Linked DNA regions of Homo sapiens: region 2 is linked to region 1. A link means that fine-mapping ties the variant in region 1 to the expression of a gene that starts in the linked region. Tissue or cell type: whole blood. Region 1 holds a variant in brackets; the other region holds the start of a gene. All regions are shown on one strand. Distances are between the middles of the regions.

What was found. PIP is the estimated chance that this variant, and not a neighbour inherited with it, causes the effect.
Region 2: ACTR3-AS1 starts here. The variant in region 1 is fine-mapped to the expression of ACTR3-AS1 in whole blood (INTERVAL, PIP above 0.99).

The regions. Positions count from the first base shown.
Region 1 is chr2:113,925,258-113,933,595 of GRCh38, forward strand. ACTR3 (actin related protein 3) reads left to right here. Exons shown (of 12, transcript NM_005721.5): 4 at 2,088-2,198; 5 at 6,044-6,139. Among named protein-coding and RNA genes, the nearest start is that of ACTR3-AS1, 38 kb to the left of the region's middle. The variant G/GT (reference allele first, on the strand shown) is at 3,873.
Region 2 is chr2:113,887,293-113,895,630 of GRCh38, forward strand. It overlaps ACTR3-AS1 (ACTR3 antisense RNA 1), which reads right to left and starts at 3,700. Exons shown (of 5, transcript NR_110174.1): 1 at 3,601-3,700. It overlaps ACTR3 (actin related protein 3), which reads left to right and starts at 2,797. Exons shown (of 12, transcript NM_005721.5): 1 at 2,797-3,031. The coding sequence starts at 2,988. LOC124906071 (a long non-coding RNA gene) reads right to left here and starts at 2,475. Exons shown (of 3, transcript XR_007087205.1): 1 at 771-2,475. RefSeq lists enhancers at 2,168-2,477, 2,598-2,687, 2,720-3,375, 3,458-3,507, 3,558-3,737 and silencers at 2,768-2,827, 3,068-3,327.

The DNA of each region.
Region 1 (8,338 bases):
TGATCTTGGCTCACTGCAACCTCCGCCTCCTGGGTTCAAGTGATTCTCTTGTCTCAGCCTCCCGAGTAGCTGGGATTATAGGCATGCACCACCACGCCTGGCTAATTTTTGTATTTTTAGTGGAGACGGGGTTTCACCATGTTGGCCAGGCTGGTCTCAAACTCCTGACCTCAGGTGATCTGCCTGCCTTGGCCTCCCAAAGTGCTGGGATTACAGGCATGAGCCACCACGCCCAGTCGGAACTTTATTTTTTTTAAAAACCTGTAGTGTAATATTTGTTCGTATATATTTCTTTTGCTAGACTGAGTTTTTTGTATGCTGGATGTCTGTGTCCTTAGCATTTGTGCCAGTGGCTTACAGTAGGTACACAGTAATAATTGATGAATAAATAATACTTAAAACATTTGAATTTGTAAACTTCTAATAATGTTAAAAATTGAATGATAAAGTAAACTGCAATTTTTTCCTTCCTTAAAGCAAACTGGGGAGTAGAAGTCCTTTTATAAGTATAATGCCTTAAAAAGTAGTGTGGAAACTAGAGTAAGAAGTAGATGTTAGGGATTGATACTGCAAGGTATTTATTTCTTTGTTCATTAATTTGTTTAACTTTAGGTATTGAATGTGTATTATGTTCATGGAATTATATTCTGTTGCAGAGGTTCACAAACTTTCTCAGTGCCGTTAGGGTCTCAGTAACGTTTTTCACTGTGCCACCTAGATCGAAAGAAATGTCTGATAGTTCTGTTTATTAAATACCTAGGTCCAGGCAACTTAGTAGCCACTTGAAAAAAATAAGACACTTAAATTGGAAACGTTATTTCACTGCTGAGTAATCACATTTCTGTTAGGATGCTTAGGCATCGCTCAGCTTCTCAAACCTGGAATCAGATGGGACATTGCCACCCTGATTTCTTGTTTTATATCGATGTTATTTTATGTGATAACTTGGTTTTTATGCCAGCAACTGCTGACAAACCAACTTCTGTAAGAAATAATGTCATTGAAAGGAATATATAATAGTTTGATTTATTGTTGAAACTGAATTACTGTGACTTGTAGATCACGCAGTGTCCAACTGATGTTGAGTAACACTATATTTCCCTGGAAAATTTAAAATAACTTTGCGGCGCCCTTGTGAATTTATGGTAGTACACTGGGGTGCTGTCTCAGTTCATTTTCTGTTGCTATAATGAATACTTGAGACTGAGTAATTTATAAAGAAAAGAGGTTTATTTTGGCTTGTGGTTCTGGAGGTGAGGAAGTCCAAGATGAGTTGGCCACATCTGATCAACCTCTGGTAAGGACCTCATGCTGCTTCATAACATGTTGGGGAATGGAAGAGGAAAGGGACAAAATACAAGGGACAACTTCACTTTGTAACAGCCTGCCTTCAACCCTCTGGAGAATTAACTCAGTCCTGCTGAGAACTGCATTAATTCCTCTAATGACCTGATGACCTCTTAAAGGCCCTACCACCTCTCGATACTATAACACTGGGAATTAAATTTTAACATGAGTTTTGGTGGGAACACACCACATCCAAATCATAGTAGGTATCTTAGCACACAGTTTTGGAAGCATGACTCTTAAACATTTATAAAACTTTTCTTATAACATTTTATGTGCTTGATTCTTACAATTATTCTAGGTATGTACTTACAGGTGCACTTTTTATATTCGGCATACAACAAATACTTGTTAATGGCCTAATGCATTAAAAATTAAGGAAATTGTGATAAAGTATAGTTTTTTAGGCTTAATTTTTGTAGGCTAACTTATCCTTTTATTACAAAACTTTTAAAATCTAGAAAGACTAGTACAATGGTCTTCCATGTAGATTTAACAGTTTTTAACATTTTGACATATTCACTTTGTTTTTATTGAACCATCCATCTGACAATGCGTTATTGAACTAATTTATCTTTAAATCCTTAAGTACACATCTTTTAAGGATGTTCTATAGTATCACACCTATGAATATATCCTCATCTAATATCCACTAATGATCTGATATTTCCTTTTTTGTATTTTTATTTGTTTTTTATATTAATAAGATTTAATTTGTATTTCCCTTTTTGTTTTAATAGTGGCCAATCCGCCATGGTATAGTTGAAGATTGGGACTTAATGGAAAGGTTTATGGAGCAAGTGATCTTTAAATATTTAAGGGCAGAACCTGAAGACCATTATTTTCTTTTGGTAAGTTACAAGTTATAATTTCACTGAGGAAATTTTTGAATACACTTAATGAGAACATTTTCATCATACTTCTTTGGTATACTTTGGTTATTAAATTGTCATATGTCTAAATGACTTTGTAATAAAGCTGTATCATCTTTAAGACCATCTAGTTATGGCTACAGGAGAATAGTAGTATGTCAAAGCACCACATGTTAAACACTTAAGAAGTGCTTTTGGTAGTTAATGTCTAATCTTTATGATAGAAACAGTAAGTAATGTTCAGAAAAATGTTGGAAACCTGTGGCACTTTTTTGCTTAAAAAACAATAGTCTGATTATTATATCATTGGTATTTCTTCATAACAAAAATACAATATAATCTAACTTTTTATTAAACATCTTTTTATTAAAGCAGTGCATGTTCATAACTTAAAAAATCAAATGACTTTATAAGATTTAAAACAACAAAATAACACTTTCCTTTCTTACCTCTCCCAACCTTTGGTTCATATTCCCCGGAGGCAAACATTTTCAATTTTAACAAAGTTTGCCCTGCTAGTAATCTTTTAACATGTTTCTTTTATTTAACATTTTTTTTTTATTTCTTCTGTCTTTAAGAATATTATACATTATTTACCAACTTCCTAATAGGAAAAATGAGAATTTCCCTTTTTACCTTTTCTCTCCCTCAACACAAAATACCTATCCTTTCCCACTCCTCGCATTGTAGTTACATCACAATTTTTGGTTAAATCAATATTCTGTGTCTTTCGGTGATTGTGATGGACTATAAAGTTGAAAGAACCATACTATGGACACTCATACACCCACAATCTAGATTCGATGATTAACCTTAACATTTGGCTATAATTGCTTCATGACGTCTATCCATCTTTCACTTCATTTTAGTTTTTAAATCACTTCAAAGTGAGTTGCAAATGGGAGTCATTTGACCCCTAAATACTTTAGCACGTATTTCATCAACTAGAGCTATCATTTGTGTATGGTTATTCTTTTCATATAAAATTTACATATCATAAAATCACCGGTCTGCACCATTCAGTGGATTTTGACCAGGGTTTGGCAAACTTTCTAAGGGAGCAGATAGCAAATATTTTTGGCTTTGCAGGGGTTATAGTCCCTGAGGAAACTTAATGAGAACTTTTTATACAATGGTCCCTGTCACAGCTACTCAGCTGTGCTGTTGTAGCATGTTAGCAGCCATAGACAATACTTAAATTCATAGGTATGTCTGTGTTCCAATAAATTTTTTTTTTTTACCAAAACAGGTGGTGGGCTGTATTTGACCTGCAGGATGCATGATGTGATTTGTCCAATCTTTGTCAGTTACATACATCTGTGTAACCTAAACTCTTACCAAGATATAGAGAAATTACTATCAGCGTGGAAAGTTTTCTCATGCCCTTTTGTAATTAATCTCTGCCCCCGTGCCCTAGTGACAACCACTGTTTCTTTTTCATCTGAGATTAGCTTTGCCCATGTTTGAGTGTCAAATAATGGAATCATGCAATATGTGCATTTTGGTGAAACACTTTTACTTAGCATAATCTGGAGATTGAATTATGTTGCATATACTGGTGATTTGTTGCTTTTTGTTGCTGGGTAGTATTCCATTGTATAAATTTGCCTCACTTTATCCATTTTCCTGTTGATGAATACCTGGGCTATTTTT[G/GT]TTTTTTTTTTGTTTTTGTTTTTGTTTTTTTAAGACAGGGTTTTGCTCTGTTGCTCAGGCTGGAATGCAGTGGATCAATCATGGCTCATTGCAGTGTTGACCTCCCAGCTCAAACAGTTCTCCCAGCTCAGATTCCTGAGTAGCTAGGACACACAGGCCCGGGCCACCACACCTGGGTAATGTGTTCTGGTTTAGAGATGGAGTCTCACTTTGTCACCCAGGCTGGTCTTGAACTCCTGGGCTCCAAGTGATCCTCCCGCCATGGCCTCTCAAAGTGCTGCCACCATGCCTGGCTTAGTTCTAGTTTTTGGTTATAATAAAATAATTTGACCATTGTGAACCTTCTTCTACAAGACTTTTTGTGGACATATGTTTTCATTTCTCTTGTCTAAATACGTAAGTATGGAATTGCAGCGTCATAGGGTAGGTACCTGATTGGTTTTTTAGGGAAACTCATGGGAACTTTTCCCAAGATGGTGAACCTTTTTGCACACCCCCCAGTGATGCATTAGTAATCTGCTTGCTCTATTCAAGATTTGGCTTATCAATCTTTTATACTTTTTTTTTGAGACAGTCTTGCTCTGTCACCCAGGCTGGAGTGCAGTGGTGTGATCTTGGCTCACTGAAACCTCCCCGCCTCCCAGGTTTAAGGGATTCTTGTGCCTCAGCCTCCTGAGTAGCTGGGATTACAGGCATGCACCACCACACCTGGCTAACTTTTGTAATTTTAGTAGAGACAGGATTTTGCCATGTTGGCCAGGCTGGTCTTGAACTTCTAGTCTCAAGTAATCTGCCCACCTCGGCCTCCCAAAGTGCTGGGATTATAGATGTGAGCCACTGCGCTGCTAGCTTGTCAGTCTTTAAAATTTTAGCCGTTCTGGTGGGTGTGTACGATTTTTCATTTGCTTTTAATTTTAATTTTCATTTTCTGATAATTATGTTGAGCAGTCTTTCATGTACGATTGTTATTATTAGCTATTTGTATATTTTCCTTTGTGGGGTCCTCTGATTATCTTTTATGTAGATTTTTTTTCTTGGAGTTTATAATTTCACTGCCTTGGTTTTTAGTTTACTTAATTTTGTATGTATTCATCAGTAAATTATCTCCAGACTTTTAAACATAGCTCCAGAACTCTTCTAAAGAAGTTTAAACACCACAGGGAGTTTAGCTTATAAAGGTTTTATGTAAGGTAACAGTATACTTAGTTGTTTTGCTTTATATTTCTTTTGAAATAATAATTTTAAAAATATTTAATTTTTAATGGATTCAAGTTTTATCACTTTTTCCCTTTGTGATTTGTACTTCAGAAATTTAAGGAGTTATTCCTACCTTAAGGTCAAAAAGAGAATTCTGTGTCTTTTTTAAATTTAAAAATTTTTCTTTTACATTTAAGTATTTGAGATACCTATTAGATTGCCAGTCAGACTCACAAGAATCAGAGGTCTTACCCAGTGTTAATCTTTAAAAATTGAAACAGTTTAAGTGATCATGAGGCATAGGTGAAATATGAAGTCCAAGACTGCCAGATCTCTGAGTCCTTCCTTGCCTCTTTAGAGTGTGTTCTGTCCCAGACTTAACCTGTGAGGTTTCTAAGTGATGTATACAGTCACATAAACAGAAGAGTGCTCTGCAAACATCTTGATTCTATGCTCTTAACAGGTAAATTAATATAACATTTTTCAGAAAGCTGTACCATTAGATCTGTAGAATCTCGGCTTGTTTACTGTAATCCTATATACTTCGGGGACATTCATCTAAAAGCATTACTTAGATGAGGGCTCTCCCACTGGCAAATACCATTGATGTTTTTTCTGGAGGTTTGTCATTACCATATTTAAAGGATGATTTGACTGGACCACCTTTTCCCTACCTCCAACCCTCTCTCTCCCTGCTTCATTTCTTTTTAATGTTTAATCTGTATAAGTGGTATGATATAGGCATTCAGGGTATTTTTTTTTTAAAATGTGAATTACCATACTGTTTTCATATATGTATGGATGTTTGAATTCTCTATAGTTTTCCTTTGATCTCTGTGTCTGTCTTTCTACTTGTAAATTTAATGCATTTTAAATAAAATGTTTGAAATAAATTACTTCTCATTTAAAAATTGTCAAGAAAGTTATCAAAATAATCTGATATTATCTATTTAAAATGTTATTTATTTCAATAGACTGAACCTCCATTGAATACTCCAGAAAACAGGGAATATACTGCTGAAATAATGTTTGAGTCCTTCAATGTTCCAGGCTTGTACATTGCTGTGCAGGTAAGCAAGTTCATACTTTCTAAGTTTGATTCTTACATTTTAACCTAGTTTAATTTGCTGCCTAAAATACGTACTTTTTTTTTTTTTCTGCAAAGGTTTAAACATAATGTCAAAGCATGTTATACTTCTCTCCTGAATTGTTAATTTAGAAGTAATATTATGGGAAGTGGAGATATTTAGTCAGGAAAAGAGAAGTGTTAAAAAAGTAAGTTAGTGGTGTTTGGGTATTTCAAGGGCTTTCATAGGACAGAAATGAAGGAACTAATATTTATGGAATGCTTTCTCTGTGACAAGAACATTGTATATATATTTATCCTTGTAAATAATCCTTTATCATTTATCCTTATAAATCTTTTTGTCCTTTATTGTAGTCTTTTTTGATTGACTTATCTTTAGGTATATTTGACACCCTAATATTTCACTTCTCTTAATTTGTACGTTTATCTGTATGGAACAGCTTCTCTCCCACCCCTCAGGATCAGAGCTGACCTCATTTTTTTTTTTTTTCCCTTGTAGCAGAGGTAATCCCTGACATAACACAAATGCTTTATATGTGTATTAATTCATTATTTCTATTAAATGTAGATATTTTTGTTTCTGTTTTTTGTGGAGGAAGAAAACTAAAGCTGGAAGGCACTTTATTCATAATTAAATGGTTAGCTGTGATACCAGGCAGCTGAGGTCTGTCTGACTTTGCTCTTTCTTGGGATCACACTGGTTTTTGTAACTCCACGGTACACAGAATCAATAAGTGATAATTATGGATGAATATTTTAACTTGGATAGCAAAGAACTTTTTAATGTTTAATGCAATCCATAAATTTAATGAACTGCCTTTTAAATTCTCTGCTGCTAAAAATATTTAAGGAGTCACTTAAACCTGTCATGAACTTTATAGAAGAATTCAGTCTTGAGTGGGAGGCCCTTTTTTAGTTCTTAGAATATGAATAAAATGAGGAGTTGGGAAAATTCATCTTTCACTTGGGAGTTTTTGCTTCTCATCCTATGTTAAATATAATAAACTTATGTTTAACCATATTGTCAGGTAAAGCTTACTTTAAAACACTGGCATCATGAGCTTTGTTTCATTCCTCTGGAGTCGTAATTTGGTTTTTCAGTGATTTCCTTAGTGGCCTCTGAGTGCTCTTAATTTCATTATTTAATCTCTGTTCTGTTTTGTTGATGTTCAGTAGTCAATAACATTTCTGTAACATGATGTGCTGATACATATCTATTCTAGTTTGGGACCGTAACTGTTTACAAAAGACTTGTAAAAGTGATCAGAGATAATTCTTGGTTGTAGATGATAGTTTTGAACTTACTTATAGAGGAAGGATATCTCATAATGAAGTCTAAACAGTATATATATATATAACTAGTATTAGGATGGAATTTTTCATTTTAAGATTGTCAAAAAATAATGTATAGTTCTGTTAGCCTATAGTGATTATGTGGTGATTGTGTTAATATGATCTTGTGTTCAGATAGGAGGGTGACCTAGATAGCTTTCTAGGTCCCTTTTAGCTATTACAGTCCAGGTAGGTAAAATAAGTCCAGTATAAGTTTAGTTGTTTTTAATTACTAGTCATATACTTTGTTTGAGGCTTGGATTGTAAGAAATTTAGTTTTTTAAAAAATGAACTATGTTAATTTCTTAATTCTCACACTTAAAAAAGAATTGTGTTGTATTGTCTGTACCAAGGTTTTTCATAGAAAAATTTTATCAACGTTGCTCCATAATTAAATCATAGTAGTATTTGGAGGTGTGCGATGGCGTTTTCTGTATGTCATATAGTCCTAAACACATGTTACCTTAAAAAAATTTGAAGGTAGGCCTGGCACAGTGGCTCATGCCTATAATCCCAGCACTTTGGCAGGCTGAGGCAGGTGAATCACAAGGTCAGGAGTTCAAGATCAGCCTGGCTGAGATGGTGAAACCCCGTCTCTACTGAAAATACAAAAATTAGCCGGGTGTGGTGGTGGGCACCTGTAATCCCAGCTACTCCGGAGGCTGAGGCAGAGAATTGCTTGAACCCAAGAGGCGGAGATTGCGGTGAGCCGAGATCGTGCCACTGCATTCCAGCCTGGGTGACAGAAAGAAACTCTGTCTCAAAGAAAAAAAGAAAAAGAAGGTAATCTTTTAGTAATAGTTGTTTATAGCCATATATGTATTGAATAACTGGAGGTAGGGTGGTTGTG
Region 2 (8,338 bases), 38 kb before region 1:
TGGCCTAATCACCTCTTAAAGCTCCCACCTCTCAGCACTGTTGCACTGGAAATTATATTTCTCACACATGAACTTTGGGGAACACATTCAAACCATTACAGTTACCAAAGATAAAAATGCAGATTTCAGATTTCTCTTGGGGAAGAAAAAAGGCTCTGGCAATACCAGGGCTGTATTTCCACATGGCAACAGTTGTCTGTTGCCTTCTGTTGGGTTGTGGGCTCTCACATTGCCATACCCTCCTCATGGCCCCCTTCACTCATAACAGTACCTGCCTAGACCTCGAAGCACTAGTTTCCAACCCTGCTTGAGTTAACTACTTCCATGACAACTGTGCAAGGCCAGAGTGTGGGCAGCTACCTTGAGGGCCACCGGCATGGGCTGCCCAAGTGACCGAGGGCACTAACCTCTGCTCTCGAAACTTCTTTGGTAGGATCTCTTCACTCCTGACTTACTACTTGTAACTGCTGGAAACAACCATTTATTCTACCCCTACTAAACCACATCTGTCTTTTCTGTCAGAGCCAATCTTCAAGCATATGCTTCCTCAAAAGACTTTAATTACCAGGTAGTAGAAGCGGCAGCAAAGAGTCCCCATCTAGCATCTTCTAAAATGTAGTGGAGAAACCAACGACAACGAATCTGAGACAACCAGTTGTTTGACTTCTCTGAAAACAACCTCTAAAAAAAGCCTTCTCTCGTGAATAGCTGCAGACATGCTGGGCACTAATTGATGATGATGCCCTTTAGTGAGTCTCCTCTGCACATACCTGATTCCATTTGGATGCTGGCCCTCACATACTTCTATCTGCGAACTCCGGAACACAGAATATCATACAATGTATGATTCAATCTGGACTCTGCTGGAGCCATTCTCTACAAAGCAGACACAACTTTTTCTTGCCTAAATCCTTTCAAGTTGCTTTATTTTTATTTTTAAACTAATTACCATAAATCTAATTTATCAAGCTGCTTTTAAGATAAACTTTAAAATGCTTAGAGCAGTCTACAAATTCTTGCACTGTTTCACTCTTCCTTATCTCTCAGTCTTCATCTCCCATTGCATCTTCTCTGACTCTTTCATATGGATCTTCTTTCAATTTGTGGAAGAAGCCAAGCTTGTTCCTGCCTCAGGTCCTTGACACTTGCTGTTCACTCTCCTGGGAGACTCTTCCCCCCATCTTAGCTTTTAAATACCAGCTGGTCAGACTCCTTACCTGCCTTCCACCTTCCTCTCATTCTCCCACTCCTCGCCTTCATTTCTCAGAGTCCTCCGCTCTCTTCTTTCTATTGCTCTTAACACAATTTGTCTGTTTTCCGCTAATCTGTAAACTCTACAAGAGCACTTAACTATTTTGCATCCCACCGAATATTCGGAGTCAGCACAGACCCCGTCATAATAGAGTAGGTAAGCAATGCTTACCTGTCAAATGAATGAATGAAACACCCGATTCATCCCCCAAGCCAGCTTAATACATTAGATGATCTTATGGACTGAATAAGACATCCCTCCTTTTAAAGAATATTTTTGTTTTAGCTTCACATCAGCAAACCCCGAACGGTTCATCCTAAGATAAGCCTGGTAGAGAGGAAAGATACTAACCTTCTAGGGTCCTAAAGTGGAACTAGGAACTTATTAGATATGCACATTCTCAGGCATTATTTCCGATAGCCCAGTCAGAGAATTCTGGGGGTATGGCCCAGCAATCTGTTTTAACAAACCTTTCAGGTAATTCTGATACACACTAAAGTTTGAAAGGTTTCTTTAAGGCTTTCCAGTTTTCTTTTCTTTTTTGGAGGGATGGGGGGGGGTCTCCCCATGTTGCCCAGGCTGGTCTCGAACTCCTAGCCTCAAGCTATCCTATCCTCCCACCTCGGCCTTCCAAAGCATTGAAATTACAGGCATGACCCACTGCGGCTCGCCTCCGTTTCTAACTTAAAAAAATTTTCTTTGGAGGGGAGCCTTAATCCTTTCTATTATCCTGCTAGTAGAATCTTACTACTCCTGAGGGTAATCTTTGTCATAATCCAAAAGCCTTGAATAAAGGCCTATTTGTATAGTTATGCAGAATATATTCCTGGGAGGTTTGCCTTCCTAGGAGCACAGGTCGGCCCTGGGAGGTGGGGGTTGGGGGGCAGGGCTGCATTCTAAAGTCCTGTAACAACGCACAAGTACAACTGAATAGAACTCGGAACAAAGGCATCAGGGCCACGGTGCAAGTCTTTGTTCATCCGTTCCCCGACTGCTCACCCTGTCTGATACCGCTCTTTTCCACCCAGAAAAGCAGCCACTCAAGTTTTAAGAATGGATGTATGCCGCGGACGTTTTCGATTAGGCCGTTTTCTCTCAGGCACTGGAGGATATTCGTGGCTGCAGGAGGCGCTTCCACCCTTTCCTCAACCTAGCAAAGAAGTAACTGAAACTAACCCAAGGGTTACAACCGAAAAGCCCCTTCCAGCTTCAGAAGCAGAACTGGAAGCTCGGATAGACTTCTCCGCCTCTACACTCCTGGAAAACCCGCAGTGGATTTCACCAACTTCAGGATCGGAGCCCAGGCAGGCGAACGTACCTTATTGCGCATGCTCGCTAGCCCCTCCCGCTCGGAGCGGAAGGGGGAGCGCTGGGGGCCTGGGCCTGGCCTGGCCGGGGCGTCGGCACCGGCGGCCATCTTGGCTTCCCGGGGAAAGGCGGCGTGAGGGGAAGAAGTTGTAGGGTGGGGGCAGGAGTGAGGAGGAGGGAAGAGAGAGGGGGAGGAGGCCGCGGCGGGGCAGGGCGGGGACTGCCTGCCTGCCTGGGTTGCGGAAGTGATAGCCGCCGACCGAGCCTGCTGCTTTCTTGCTACTGCTTCGGCTTCCCGGCTACCCCCCGGACGGTGAAGGCGGCCCAGCTGTGGATGGTCAGATAGCCCTTGTCTCCCGCCGCCAATCTCTGGCCCCTAGCAGCACGGAGCAGACGGCGGCAGCAGCAGCAGCAGGCGAGGAGGAAGATGGCGGGACGGCTGCCGGCCTGTGTGGTGGACTGTGGCACGGGGTAAGGGGGCTTACGGGCGGGGGTGGGGAAACTGAGGCGGAGGAAGGAAGATGGCGGGGGAGGGAGGAGGCCGGGAAATGAATGGTGCGGCGAGGTGCCGCCGCCGGCTGTCAGTCCTAGACCCGCCGGCCAGCGAGGGGTGGGGCCCGCAGCCAGGGCCTCGCGGGTCCCCTCGTTTCTCCCTCCTGGGACTGGGGCGGGGGCGCGGGCCCGAGATTCAACCCCCAACCCTCCCAGCGGCTTTCTCCGCGCGACCCCTCCCGGCCCTTCCCCCACTACGGTGGGCAGCGCCGCCCAAAGGGCGCTGGGGACGGTCGTCTTGGGGGTGGTCCCCGGGCCCGACCCATCCGGCTTTCCTTTCCCTCCGCGCCCGTTTTTGCCAGTCGGTTTGGGGACCCAGGGGCCGAGCTCGGGGACTGGCCTGGCAGGGGAGCTAGAAAAGAGAAGCGCTCCTGGTAGGTTTGACAAGATCGCTGTGACAACATTCTGCCCAGGGTGTGGGTGGGGAAAGGGAAGAATCGGACTCTGAAAATGGGAACCTACAGTGGGGCTTTCATTTGACCACCCACCTTCTCCTTTCGACTCCTGGTCATTTCCATCTCCCTCTGCGTTTTAACCGGTGAACCAAGTCACATTTTAATTCGAGGGAGAAAGATGTCATGTGTTACTTCTGTAGCCTCAAAAAAGTCCCCCAGTGAGCAAGCGCGCTGCAACTTCCTTAGTTTTGTCAAAGCCGCTTCCTGCTTTCAGTCTTTTATACCCTTATAAGGTAGTTTTTAGTTTCCAACCTGAGCACATCTTACTAGAACTTTTAAGCAGGTTTTAAAGAGACTGAATTACCGGTGCTTGGTGTCCATTTATATGACTTAAAAAAATGTACTTATGTTTCATGGAGTGGGGGAAAGGAAGCACCCTGGAAAATAAACTAATTTAAGTTGTATTCGTTCATTCTGTGATGGTATCTTGAAGGAAGCAGGAAGGTATAGAGGTATATAGGAGGGTGTTTAAGTTGCAAATAGTTACTCGTAGATATGTAGGGTAGTTTGCGAAAATGTAGAGTGGCTTTAAAGTGTGGTCGTTCATTTTGTATTAATAGACGTTTTAGAGAGTTGTACCACACTCATAACTGCATAGAGAATAGACTACCCTTATTTTTATGTAGAATCACTGCTTCAGGATGACATATAGGAAAGTGGTTTTTTTTTCTGTGCTGATGACATCTCTCCAATTCCCAGAACACTCCCAGTTTTTTTTTTTTGAGGGGGAAGTCAGTAAGAGGTGGACTGTCAGGCTTTTTTTTTTATTATTAATTATAATTATTGATTTCATTATTGTTACTTAAAAGATTGTGTGTCCTTCACTCTTTATGTGAAATTTCTTTAATCTTCATTCTCATAACTAGCTAGTGTGGCAGTTTCTAAAATCCCAGTTAGGTAGAGAGAAACCACCAACTTCTTAATATTCTCCTAGGAAAACACTAGCCTTGGAACTTCTATGTATTTTTTTGATGAACACTTTATTTAAAAGTTTTTCCTTAATTCAGTCTCATTTCTCTGAACCAATAATTTTTTTTATTTCTCCCTTCTTAGTCTAATTGGTGAGTATTTTTATGTCTAGGTTCAGTTTTAAAATTAGATTTGGCCTGAGTCAGTAGGATAGGACTTTTCAAATGTGTTTTGTTAAAGTGACGAATATTGCTACATAATTAATGCTTTAGAAATTACTGCGTTTTCAAAAAAATAGTGTAAATAATTGTGGCCCTGAGAAATAATATGGTAACATCTCAAGTAGTATGTTACTTTTCTAATCTCCATTTTCCCCCTTTTGAAATAGTTTCGAATTAGTATACAAGATGTTTCATTGAGATAAACTGTCCTTAAGTGACCTCCTTTCCTAAAGGGCAACCTTGAATTTAAAACATGCTGAATGACCAGTAGGATCGGGAAGAGGGGTTCAATTTAACCTAGGCTATTTCTGTTTTAAAATTACGATTATCACAATAGTGTATTTTTAAGTTATTACATTGGTTTCTCCAATAAGGAGAGGTTATTAACTGCACATTGATGATTTGAATGGAACTGATTAGGAGTCCCCTTGCCACCTCACTCTCTTTTACCATTTGTCACAATCTGAAATTCCCCCTTTAGAGTTTCAGTTATTTTGGTTCTCAAAAGCCTTTTTGGTCTTACAAGTTTCCAGTGGTGCCTCCTGGGAAGTTACACCTTCAGCTTTATTTGCACATGGAGGATAAGTCCTTGAGGTTGAGGACCCTGAGATAAACATCTCTAAGTATGGCCTTAACAGGGAGCTTTTACATTTCAAAATTCTGTGGTCCCCGAATGCAAATTGTGCACCTGTAATTTGTCTAATTTTTTTTATGCTTTAGAGAATGCATTCAGCTCTGAGGTCTCTAAATTACAATTACTCACTTAGTTTAAGTAAAAAGTTATAACCTGAATCAGGTTGCTCATTTCATTCATTATATAAATTAGGGGAAAGGTGGCTGAAAAAAAGTGGCCATCTGTAAAACTTGATCGTCTTAGATAGGAAAGCTGTTAAGAGTTAGGAAACTTGAAACTTAAGCCCAAAACTTTTAGGGATCGTCCAGCAAAACTCAACATATGAATCACCTAGATTCAGGTCATAAAAGAGAATACTTATTTTGAAAAGAATTTGAAAAGAAATGCTTCATTCACATTGATACCCTTATCTACACACTTTTTTGGTCTGTATTGGAAAGCATTGTAAAATACAGTTGGGGCACATAGATTCCCATTGGTGGCTTGAAAACTAAATAACAGAACTCAAACCTGCTATTAGTGGTGAGAAAAGCATTTTCTTTAAAAGGCATTCACAAACATTTTTTAAAAAAACATTGTAACACTTGTATGATCATCCTAAGGTTTTTTTTTTTCTGGGCGGTGGAAGGGATCGTTTTTTAAATGTGTTTTTTGCTTTTTGTTTTTTTGTTTGTTTGTTTGTTTGTTTTGAGATGGAGTCTTGCCCTGTCGCTGGGCTGGAGTGCAGTGGCACGATCTCGGCTCACTGCAACCTCCACCTCCCAGGTTCAAGCTATTCTCCTGCCTCAGCCTCCCGAGTAGCTGGGACTACAGGCACATGCCACCACACCCAGTTAATTTTTCTCTTTTTAGTAGAGATGGGGTTTCACCATGTTGACCAGGATGGTCTCCATCTCCTGACCTCGTGATCCACCCGCCTCAACCTCCCAAAGTGCTGGGATTACAGGTGTGAGCCACCGCGCCCAGCCTTAAAGGTTTTTTTTAAATGCATGTTTTTACTCAAGTTTCTCCATCATTCAAGCCAAATGAGGGCGCTCCTTATTAACTCCTTGTTATATCGTAGCTTGGTTACAGAGCTGCATTGTGAATTTCCTTTTCCCTTTTATGTCTTTTTTTTTCCCCTGGTAAATAAAATATTGGTAAATTAGTTCCACTGATTATGATAGCAGAGGTTAATATAGCCCTATGGTCAAAGTCTTGGATATATTCATATCTGGAGCAGATTAAGGAATTTTGCTAACTGACTTCAACTTCTTAGCAATCTTAAAATGTAAGCTTAAATATCTTGTAGGTGTCAGTGAAAGAGGAGTATGTTCATCTTGTGGCCACAATTCAGCAATTAGTGCAGATAAGAATGATCTTGTTTGAAGAGCAGTGGGGAAAAGCTGGGTAAATGAAGGAAGGTATATGTGGGAAGTTCATGTTTCTTCCATGAATTCTGTGCGTATTGTTTAATAATAATGCTGTTTCTTTTTTTTTTTTTGAGATGGAGTTTTGCTCTCATCGCCCAGGCTGGAGTGCAGTGGCATGATCTTGGCTCACTGCAACCTCCTTCTGCCTCCTGGGTTCAGGTGATTTTCTGCCTCAGCCTCCCAAGTAGCTGGGATTATAGGCGCCCACTACCACGCCCAGCTAAATTTTGTATTTTTAGTAGAGACAGAGTTTCACCATGTTGGCCAGGCTGTTGTTGAACTCCTGACCTCAGGTGATCCACCCACCTCATCCTCCCAGAGTGCTGGGATTACAGACATGAGCCACTGCACCGGCTTAATAATGCTATTTCTTTAGCCATCTCCAAAGGCAGAAATATTCACAATAGCTTCTTAACCAAAAAGCACTCATTGAAATTCTTATTCCTTGATGAGTCATGCTTTGCATGCTGTTTGAAGTAAGTACAACAGACATGCTCCTAGTGAGAAGTCAGACTCTTACTTAGACTTAGCGAAAGACTCTCCCTCCTTTCCTGCCTGCCAATTTTGTGTTGAAATATTGACTTTGGATTGCAAATACTATATTGCGGTGAACGAACTTTCAGGCTTATTGTAAAACACAGTTCAGAATTTTAGGCACAGAACGGAAAGGTCCTGTGGAGGACCTGCTGGCCATGCTTTCTGTGACAGCTATTTTTTAACCTAATTTTATAAGTGAAAAAACAGAATGAGAGAATTTAAATTACCTTTTTGATGCCGTCTACCTGGCAGGTGGTTCGATCTGCTATTTGGACCTGAGTTCTGTATTTAAGTCCTGTGTTCTTTCTGTTAACACTCCGGGGACTCCTGACTGCCTTTTCAGAACTTTATGTGTTGCTTCATTGTTGTTAGTAAAGTTAACTGTATTTCTGTTTAAAGAACTCTTACAAAAAAAAATCTCAGCCTTATGAATTTGATTCACCTAATTAGAGAAAACCCTCTGTGTAATCTTTACTTGGTTTAGGTTCCCCCCCCCCACCCCCCTGCCGATATGTGAATGCCTAGACTATTTCCTTGTTACTTTGCTTAAATTTAATCTCTAGAAAAAAATTACTCTCTAGGTTGTGTTTCTCAGGAAATAATAATAGCTAGCATTTATCGAGAATTGTATGTCAGCCCCTGTGCTAAATGCTTTATATTATCTCATTAACTTTCACAACAACCTGGAAAGTATTATCTTTGTTTTATAGGCTAGAAAATTTAGTCTTAAGAGAGGTTAAGCTACTTACCCAAGATACTGTAGCAAGTAAGTATGGCAGAGCCACTACACTAGATCTTCCTTCCGTAGAAGATGAACGTTTGACATGGCTTGGTGCATAGTAGGAATTCAAATCTTTGTTGTATGAATGAATGAACAAGAATTAGGAGTATGGTTTTTAAAAAAACTGTGCATCAGAAACACCCCATACCCAGTGACTCAGAATCTCAAGGGTTGGACTATGAATATTCATTTACATAGGCTTCCTAGATGATTCTTCAGCAGCCCATTCAAGGGCTAACTTTGCAGAAATTCTGAAACCTGGTATTGGCGGTGGAGT